Linked DNA regions of Homo sapiens. The protein of the gene in region 1 purifies or fractionates together with the protein of each later gene. This does not show direct contact. Each region holds a gene or a part of one and is shown in the gene's direction. Other genes may lie near its edges.

The links.
Region 2: the proteins of RAB11B (region 1) and PADI3 purify together in Homo sapiens (affinity purification with mass spectrometry; 2 studies listed by BioGRID and IntAct, with this or other methods). This does not show direct contact.
Region 3: the proteins of RAB11B (region 1) and CHM purify together in Homo sapiens (affinity purification with mass spectrometry; 4 studies listed by BioGRID and IntAct, with this or other methods). This does not show direct contact.

Annotation. Positions count from the first base shown.
Region 1 is NC_000019.10:8,402,538-8,404,987, forward strand, and holds the end of RAB11B (ras-related protein Rab-11B), read left to right. Parts: coding exon 1-28; intron 29-875; coding exon 876-1,021; 3' UTR 1,022-1,897; downstream 1,898-2,450. UniProt on the Homo sapiens protein: The small GTPases Rab are key regulators of intracellular membrane trafficking, from the formation of transport vesicles to their fusion with membranes.
Region 2 is NC_000001.11:17,282,389-17,284,868, forward strand, and holds the end of PADI3 (protein-arginine deiminase type-3), read left to right. Parts: intron 1-457; coding exon 458-691; 3' UTR 692-1,845; downstream 1,846-2,480. UniProt on the Homo sapiens protein: Catalyzes the deimination of arginine residues of proteins.
Region 3 is NC_000023.11:85,956,947-85,960,608, reverse strand, and holds part of CHM (rab proteins geranylgeranyltransferase component A 1), read left to right. Parts: intron 1-1,631; coding exon 1,632-1,748; intron 1,749-2,633; coding exon 2,634-2,754; intron 2,755-3,662. UniProt on the Homo sapiens protein: Substrate-binding subunit of the Rab geranylgeranyltransferase (GGTase) complex.

The DNA of each region.
Region 1 (2,450 bases):
GAGGAAGCATTCAAGAACATCCTCACAGGTGGCCGGGGACCAGATGGGTGTGGGTAGGGCACCAGCCAGGCAGGGTGGAACACGGCCTCTGAACCTTCGCTTGTTTTGTTCGTTTGCTTGTTTTTTTCTTTTTTTTGTCGGGGCAGGATGGATTTTTGCTCTTTGCCCAGGCTGGAGTGTGGTGGCTCGATCTCAGCTTACTGCAACCTCCGCCTTCCAGGTTCAGGCAATTCTCCTGCCTCAGCCTCCCGAGTAGCTGGGATTACAGGTGCCTGCCACCACACCCGCTAATTTTTGTAATTTTTAGTAGAGACAGGATTTCACAATGTTGTCCAGGTTGATCTCGAACTCCTGGGCTCAAGTGATCCTCCTGCCTCAGCCTCCCAAAGTGCTGGGATTACAGGCGTGAGCCACTGCACCTGGCCTGTTTGATTTTTTTCCACCACCACCCCTAACCTTTGCTTTTTAAACCTGCCGGTCCACCTGGACACTTCACAGGGTCAGACCAGGTCTAGCCCTTGCTGGCACTGGGGACACAGAGACCCCCTGGCCCCAGTTCCTGGGGATGGGCCCTGCCTTAACTCTTGGCGCTGCGGGGAGGCGGGTAGCCTCAGGGACCTGGAGCCTTTTGGCTTCTGGGAGTTTACCTCTGAGGGAGGAGGGCGCTTCTGATCTTAGGGAGCGAGAGGCCGGGGCTGGCTGTGACCAGATGTGGGTCCTGGCTGGGTGCGCAGCCCCTGTCCTTGTTACCCCTGATGTGATGGGGGCGCTGTGGGGGTCTGGAGAGGGCCTCTGGAGTCCTGCAGGGAGGGGTTCCCCTCGGCAGGCAGGGCACGTGCTGGCTCACCCCACGTCCCCCTGTACCCCCTTTGCAGAGATCTACCGCATCGTGTCACAGAAACAGATCGCAGACCGCGCTGCCCACGACGAGTCCCCGGGGAACAACGTGGTGGACATCAGCGTGCCGCCCACCACGGACGGACAGAAGCCCAACAAGCTGCAGTGCTGCCAGAACCTGTGACCCCTGCGCCTCCACCCAGCGTGCGTGCACGTCCTCCGCCCGCCCCCGCCACGGTATCCTCTGGCCCCTCCCTGCTGTCCCTCTGTGGCCGGCTCGTTCCAGCCCTCCCAGTGAGCTCTGCACGGCCGGGCCGGGGCCCAGGAAGGACAGGAGCCAGTGCTACCCCGTCCTGCCCGGGGAAAAGCTAGAAGCCCCGGTTTGCTGCACCCATGAAACTCGGGTCCCCACAGCGTCTTGGCGGGGTGGGGAGGGCGGCAGGATGGACGGGGCTGGCCAGAGGCGAGGAGGACGGGCGGACGGCGCCGCCTTCTCCCCTTTTCCTTGGCCGACTCTAGGGAGCGATTGCCTCCCTCCCTCCGTGACCGGGTGGCCCAGCCAGCCCGTCGTCCCCACCCAGAACCGTGCTCTGGGCCAAAGCCCGAAGAACCAGGCAGCGGGGGCCGGGGCAGGCGGACCCCCCGGGCTCTCAGCGCCCACCCGCTCCTCCGCACACAGCAGCTCGCACAGGCCTCCCACCTCTGCCTGTTGATTGATGCAGGGAGAAGCCCGTCCCCCCCTCTCCCCTCTCCCCTCCCCTCTCCTGCACGCAACGCGCCCTCTCGGCCCTCCCTGTCCCCCTCCTCTGTCTCGTCTCCCCATCTGGTCTGGAACCTGTTTGCAAGTGAAGCAATATCTCCGTGTTTTGTATATACAACCGCTCTTGTAGCCTTTGGTTTTTGTTAATGTAGAGAAACACAGATTCTTTATACACTTTGTAAGATTTACGCCAAACCCCAGCTCTCGATCTCTTCTTCTCCCTGTGGCCCCTGCGCTGTTGCCCCGTCCCCGTCACCCCGCCCGTTACTGAAATGTATAATCTGACTTCCTGTACAGAAACCTGCCGCTGCGCCTCTGTCTTCTTTCTTTTCCGCCAGGCGCCAGCTCCTAGGCTGAGGCCCCTCTCGCTGCACGTTCCCCAATGCAGGCCAGACCCCCCGTCTCCCCAGCCCACCCCACAGGAAGCGAGAGGACCCCAGCACCTGCCAAGGGCAGCGTGGAAGTCAGCCAGCGCAGTTGGGGTGGGCCCTGGTCAAGCTGCCCCTGTGGCAGGGAGGGATGGAAGGCTGCCGCTTGTCCTTGACTTTAAACTCCTGGGTCCTAGGACCTCAGGCCTGCGGGCGTCCCCTGATGGGGATGGGAGCCAAGAGCAGTGGCCAGGGTTCATCACTTTGTCTCCTGCCAGGGCCTCCCCTCCCCTGGGGTCCTGACGAGGGTGACTTGCCCAGTGGATGTTGGTGATGCCAGATGTCTCCACCCTAAACTGACACCGGAGGAGGGCCCAGTGGGGAAATGCCAGGGACAGCAAAATGTGTGGCATGGAGTTCCTCTTCCCAGGATCCAGCGTCTCCCTCCACCTCACCCCTGCAGTGACCTTGGGACCAGTGTGAGC
Region 2 (2,480 bases), on another chromosome or scaffold:
CTCTGTTCCTGGGGACAAAGATGAGTATGGCCATGCACAGAGACACTGACACGGGCAGAGACCAACTAGACGCTCCCATTGTCAGTTTCAAATTCCTGGGAGAGGGACTCTGATTGGTCCATCTTGGACCAGCTGTTCTCCCTGGCCCAATCAGTTATGGCCTAGAAGGTTGGGATTCTGCAGCACAAACATGGCAGCTGCCACAATCCACAATTCCAAATTCACATTAGGGCAGTTTCCAGAGCACGTTGCCAGAGTGAGTTCTGCGGATGCTCCCAAAGGCACCTGGCTAACCGGTTCTTCCCAGCCCCTTTAGCCAGTTACCTTCTCATTGCACAGGAAAGGGTGAGTAGCTATTGACAAGGCTGTCTAAAACACAAACCTAGGTCCTGCAGGTAGAGTAGAGGTGTGGGGTGGGAGCCCAGTGATGAAGTGCTGCTTCCCCTTTGGACTGCAGGTGAACATGCTGGTGCTGGGGAAGCACCTGGGCATCCCCAAGCCCTTTGGGCCCATCATCAATGGCTGCTGCTGCCTGGAGGAGAAGGTGCGGTCCCTGCTGGAGCCGCTGGGCCTCCACTGCACCTTCATTGATGACTTCACTCCATACCACATGCTGCATGGGGAGGTGCACTGTGGCACCAATGTGTGCAGAAAGCCCTTCTCTTTCAAGTGGTGGAACATGGTGCCCTGAGACAGCTCCCACCCACCATCCTGTCCCCCTGGGGCGGGCATTGGCCCAGGTGGTGGAGACAGAGACAGGCCCCTGAACGATAAGCACCAAGAGACCCCAAGGCTCCAGATGGAACACTGAGGGTGACCGTCCCTCTCAGAAGCCTTTTCCCTGGAAGTGTCCATGCCTCACCTGCAACCCATGTGGTTCTCAGACTTGAATCTTCTCGGCCCCCCAAAAAGAAGGACCTCATTTCTTATAGCCTCTCCTGTGATTCAACACAACCCATGGAGATGTCCCCTTCTCACTCTGAAATCATCCATTTGGGGACAAATCCACATTGGGGTCTAGAAACATCCACGTATCTCATCAGCCATCTTGTCCTGTGCATCCTAACAGAGGAAGGATCCATGATTCTGCTTTGGTCCAATTGCTTCCTCTCTGCAGAGGAACAACCCTAAAACCAGACCACTCCACGCAGGACAGGCAGGAGAGATTCTTCCTAAAGCCTCCCCCATAAAAAGGGAGCTGTGGATCCACTTAGATCAGGGCGGAACCATCTTTCACCCGGCCAAGCTCCTGCCCAGATGTTGACCCTCACCCAGCGTGAGCTGTCACATAGTAGGAGCTTCTAGATGCATGTGGAAGCAATGAGAGTTGTCCCTTAGCCTTATAAACTCCCCATGATCTGACATGCAGAAATCCAGCCTTGTCCAGAATCCTCCTGGAATTTCTTGGAGACGAAAGTATCTGGGGGATTGTTGGGTACTAGGGAGACTGGGTACAAGGGTGAAAAGTAGTTCCCATAATACACATGGTTGACTATGGTGATCCACCTTGTGATGGTTAATATTAGGTGTCTGGAGAAGGTTGCTTCATTGGCCCTGGGACTTCTCTCTGCAGGAGGAGAGAACGCTGCCTCTCCTCTGGATTGGTCTCAGGCTCTCTGTTGGCCTTTGGTCAGCGTTTCCACATCCTGCTCTGCTGCAGGAGAGGGGGCTAAGGGGCTGGATCCACCAAGGCAGCTCACAGCGGGAAAACTCTGGGAATGAACCACTGAATTCAGGGGATGGGGGTGGGGGGGCGGTTCTCGAGGTGTGTGCCAGCTACACGTGTGTTCTGTATGGGTCCAGCTGCGTTTCCATCACTCGCTAATAAATCAACAGAAACACAAATGGCTTGGCTCTCATGTTGACCCTTCTTTGAGCTTAGAATGAGACAGCAAAGAGAGAGGACTTTCTTGCAGCTGAAGCATTTGCTTTCTTGACCCCCAAGAATTTGGGGCTGACATCCCAAATTTTGATAAGACTGAGATTGCCTTGTCTTGGCCAGAGGATGGGTTAGGACTGCCATGGACACCTGTAATGATATGGACACATAAAAGCAAGCCTGGGGGTAAAATGCCAGGCTACCAGGACAAGTGAGCATGGCAAGGCTAGGGGCCGGGCTGTGGCTGGAGGTTGCACTGTGGAAGGATGGGCAATGGGGAGCATGTGGAGGCCTTTTGTGTGTCCTTAGCAGCATCCTCCTTCCGCCTGCAAGAGGCTGCGGGAAGCCTTACTTCAGAGCACTCGGGCACTGTCCCTCTGCCCTCCACCCTCCCAACCCCTTTATTTTCCCTCAAGGCGCAAAACACAGAAACACACTCAAGCTCACCCCGGGCTGGGTGGCTAGAGCTGTGTAGGTTTCTCCAGTGCTGCCTCCTTGCCGTGGCTTACTTAGGTTCTCTGAACAGATTCCCGGTGTCCCCTCACATACCCATATTTTGACAAAATAAGCTCCCTCCCTCATTTCTCCCAGCAGGGGAAGC
Region 3 (3,662 bases), on another chromosome or scaffold:
TACTAAAAATACAAAAAATTAGCTGGGCGTGGCATTGCATTCCTGTAATGCCAGCTACTCGGGAGGCTGAGGCAGGAGAATCGCTTGAACCTAGGAGACAGAGGTTGCAGTGAGCTGAGATTGAGCCACTGCACTCCAGCCTGAGCAGCAGAGAGACTCTGTCTCAATAAAAAAAAAAGAAAAAGAGGCTTAGATTCTGATATGTACACATTTATTATTTGTGAGCTTCAGAAACAAAAATCTAGTATAATTTTAATTGAAATTTGTTTTTGTTCTTGTGATATCTTAAATGCATTATTTTTCAAGCTGGCATTAAACCTTAAGGTTTATTGGATCTTATTAAATAAAAATGCAGTTTCATATTTTATATCTTAATGTTTGTGACATTATTATGGCTATGCAGGGATCCTTGAGTCTCAAATGTGTATCTTTTTAAACAAGTGATTTTTGAAGTAACTATTTTTTATCATTATTATAGAGTTAAGAATTGGCAATATATTCTTTAAAACATGGTCTCTTTCAGTAATGTAGTGTGTTAGGAAGAGGGTAATGAAGTAACGTGCCATATTTAATCAGGATGATCAGATTAGCTTCAAAAAAGTGATGTCAATTTTGTTTTGCAGAATGCTGAACTATTAGTTTATAAAATTTTACTTGAATGGTATTGATTTACTGATAGTCTTTACTGACTTATTAGTTGCTCAGACTAATGGTTTAGATTGATTTTTGAGATTCCTTTTTCTTTGTATAGTAAAGCTAATTTTCCCATTTATTTATTATAGATGTAACATTCATTTTTAATATTTATTGAGTTATAGGCATTAAGAGTATCTTAATATAGGAAATAGTCAAATCTGTTGCATTTAACCATACGGTTAACATGCTAGATAATACTGTTTACATTATTGATTTTATCTCTCTGATATTACTTATGAGATGTTGAAAGATTAAATCAATTTCTCCCATACATGCCAGCAATAATCATCATCTTCACTTTTTGAGAAAGACATATCTCATATAAACCCAGACTTCTAGAATTACAGAAGTACCTTATAATTTGACTTTTTCAGTGTAAATGCATCACAAATATTTTTTTCTTTTTTTGATGGGGTAGGGAGGTTCACTGGACTGATTTCTTCTTATAACTACCTGGCTTTGTGTAAGACTATAGATTCTTATCCAAAACCCTCAGGGCCTGGTGTATTCTATCATTAAGATTAAAAAAATATATTTTAGAAAGTAATGAAGTACATATACTGATATGTTATATGTTAGGTTAAATTATTAGCAGGGTCTGAGGAGGAACTCTAACTAAACACATTATTTCTGCAGTGAAATATATGAATATTTATGTTAATTTGGACAAACAAAGCCAGAGTGCCTTATCAGTATGGATCAGGTTTTGCTGCTAAACATGTTTTGTAAAAACTTATGGATTGCAAAGTTTTTTGAATTTTGAATTTCAGCTAATCAATTCTGAGCCTGTAATAGATTGTGTTATGTATTATAATATTTATAGGTATGATTGTTTCTACAAATAATAAAAAATATAGCAAAATTATGTATCTTTATTGTTTTCCAATTTTTCTACTATTTCAACTTTTATCTTGTAAAATATTTTCTTTGTACAGCTGCTGTATTCTCGAGGATTACTAATTGATCTTCTAATCAAATCTAATGTTAGTCGATATGCAGAGTTTAAAAATATTACCAGGATTCTTGCATTTCGAGAAGGACGAGTGGAACAGGTACTGTGCTGATCAAGAATTGTAACTGGGCATCAGCTTAAGTTATTATGGTTTGTTTTGGAAAGATAAGCAAATAAGATTGTTATTTTCCTCATAAAGCAGTAAATTCCAGTCCTCCGTGGTGATTTACAAATGTAAATGCTTAATTAAAATTTCTAGTGCTAATTTTCTCATGGCTTACTCTGCAGCTTGGTGTTGGTACCAAGCAGCACACAAAAAACCAAAAAGCACACCAGAGTTACTATACCCAAGACTAGTCACACAAATCCTTTTCTCCCATTAATCAAGATTTTGGAGAGGGAAAAGAAAGAAACGGTGATTTTTGCTGTCCACTTGATCAGATTCCACACAGAGGAGGAGGCCCGGAGCCTGGTTGGGAAAAAATTCTTACCCTTATGACAGCTGATCAGATCCTGGGTTCTTCACTGCAGCTTCCAGAAGAGCAGAGCTTTGCTATCCTGCTCACAGCACCAAAACTGTAGGGGCCAAGGGAAACACTCCCTCTTAAGCCTCTGAAGTTTCACTGAAAAATCAACTCACAAAGGCAGATTAATTGGAGAAAAGGCATAAAAATGTACTAACATGTACATAGGGAGAACCACAGTGTTTGTTTTAGATAGCACTGCTAAATTTTTCTCTGTTAGGATGACATGCCGTTGGCCTTTTAATGGCATGGGGAGTAACTTGGCAGAATTAAGTAAGAAAGCTCACAATTAGCTCTGAAGTTAGCAGAGATGCCATTAGTACTGATGGACGGTGATGTGAAAAAGCCTGGCTAGAGTGGAAACGATAATCCTGTTATATGTAAAGGGGAAAAAAGTGTAATTTGGAATAGTTATATCATTAGGAAGCAGTTTCTTAACTTAAAATCATAATATTTTTCAGGTTCCGTGTTCCAGAGCAGATGTCTTTAATAGCAAACAACTTACTATGGTAGAAAAGCGAATGCTAATGAAATTTCTTACATTTTGTATGGAATATGAGAAATATCCTGATGAATATAAAGGTATTTTTTTCATTAAGTAGTGCTCTCCAATTATTTGACATTTCTTACTATTTTAATATGCTTGCTCTGATTTAGTGAGCCACTTATTACTGTTTTAAAATGCATTCTAACTCTGCACTATCAATAGGTTAGCCATTAGTAACATTTAGCTATTTAAATTTAAATTAATTAAAGTGAAATAAAATAAAATAAATTCAGTTTCTCAGTCTTATTAGCTGTATTTCAAGGGCTCCCATAGCCCCATGTGGCTACAGTGCAGATATTTTCATTGCTGAAGTGGCATGCTAGATTTTAATTTTTATTCTTATTATTTAAATACTACTGTCAACTGGCTCTTCATAGATGATAATCTGTTTTCATGATTCCATTATTTTTTCTCATAAGTAAAAATACTATATATTTTATCATTTTCCAGGATTGCTTTTGCATAGAATCTTGAACTATTTCGTTTGAAAAAAAAAGGCTAGATGGTATATGGGGAAAAATACTGGATTCAGAAAAGGCATGGTTTCTATTCTTGGCTTTGACCTATTTCATTATGTGATCTGGGGCCAGTTACTTCATTGTCTGTTAAAAATTGAATATGCCATTTTAGTGTCAGAGCTATATACTTTAAGTCCATTGGTCTGAAAATGTTATCCAAAATTGGAATATACTATTGATAATTTATTTATAAAGTTACAATGAGAAGTGCAGCGATATTTTTTTTCCTCTGTGAAATAATGAAAGTCTAATCCTTGCTCTTAAAGCTTCAAGTCTACTAGGTACTGTCATGTTGTTATCCACAGTGGCTGTGTAAAATTCAATTCTCTCAGTAAATTTTCATAATTTTTATTTATGTAAATTATTTCTGTAAAGTTTTTGTCTTTTATCATGGGATTTATTTCCCACCACTAACAGTCCAATTA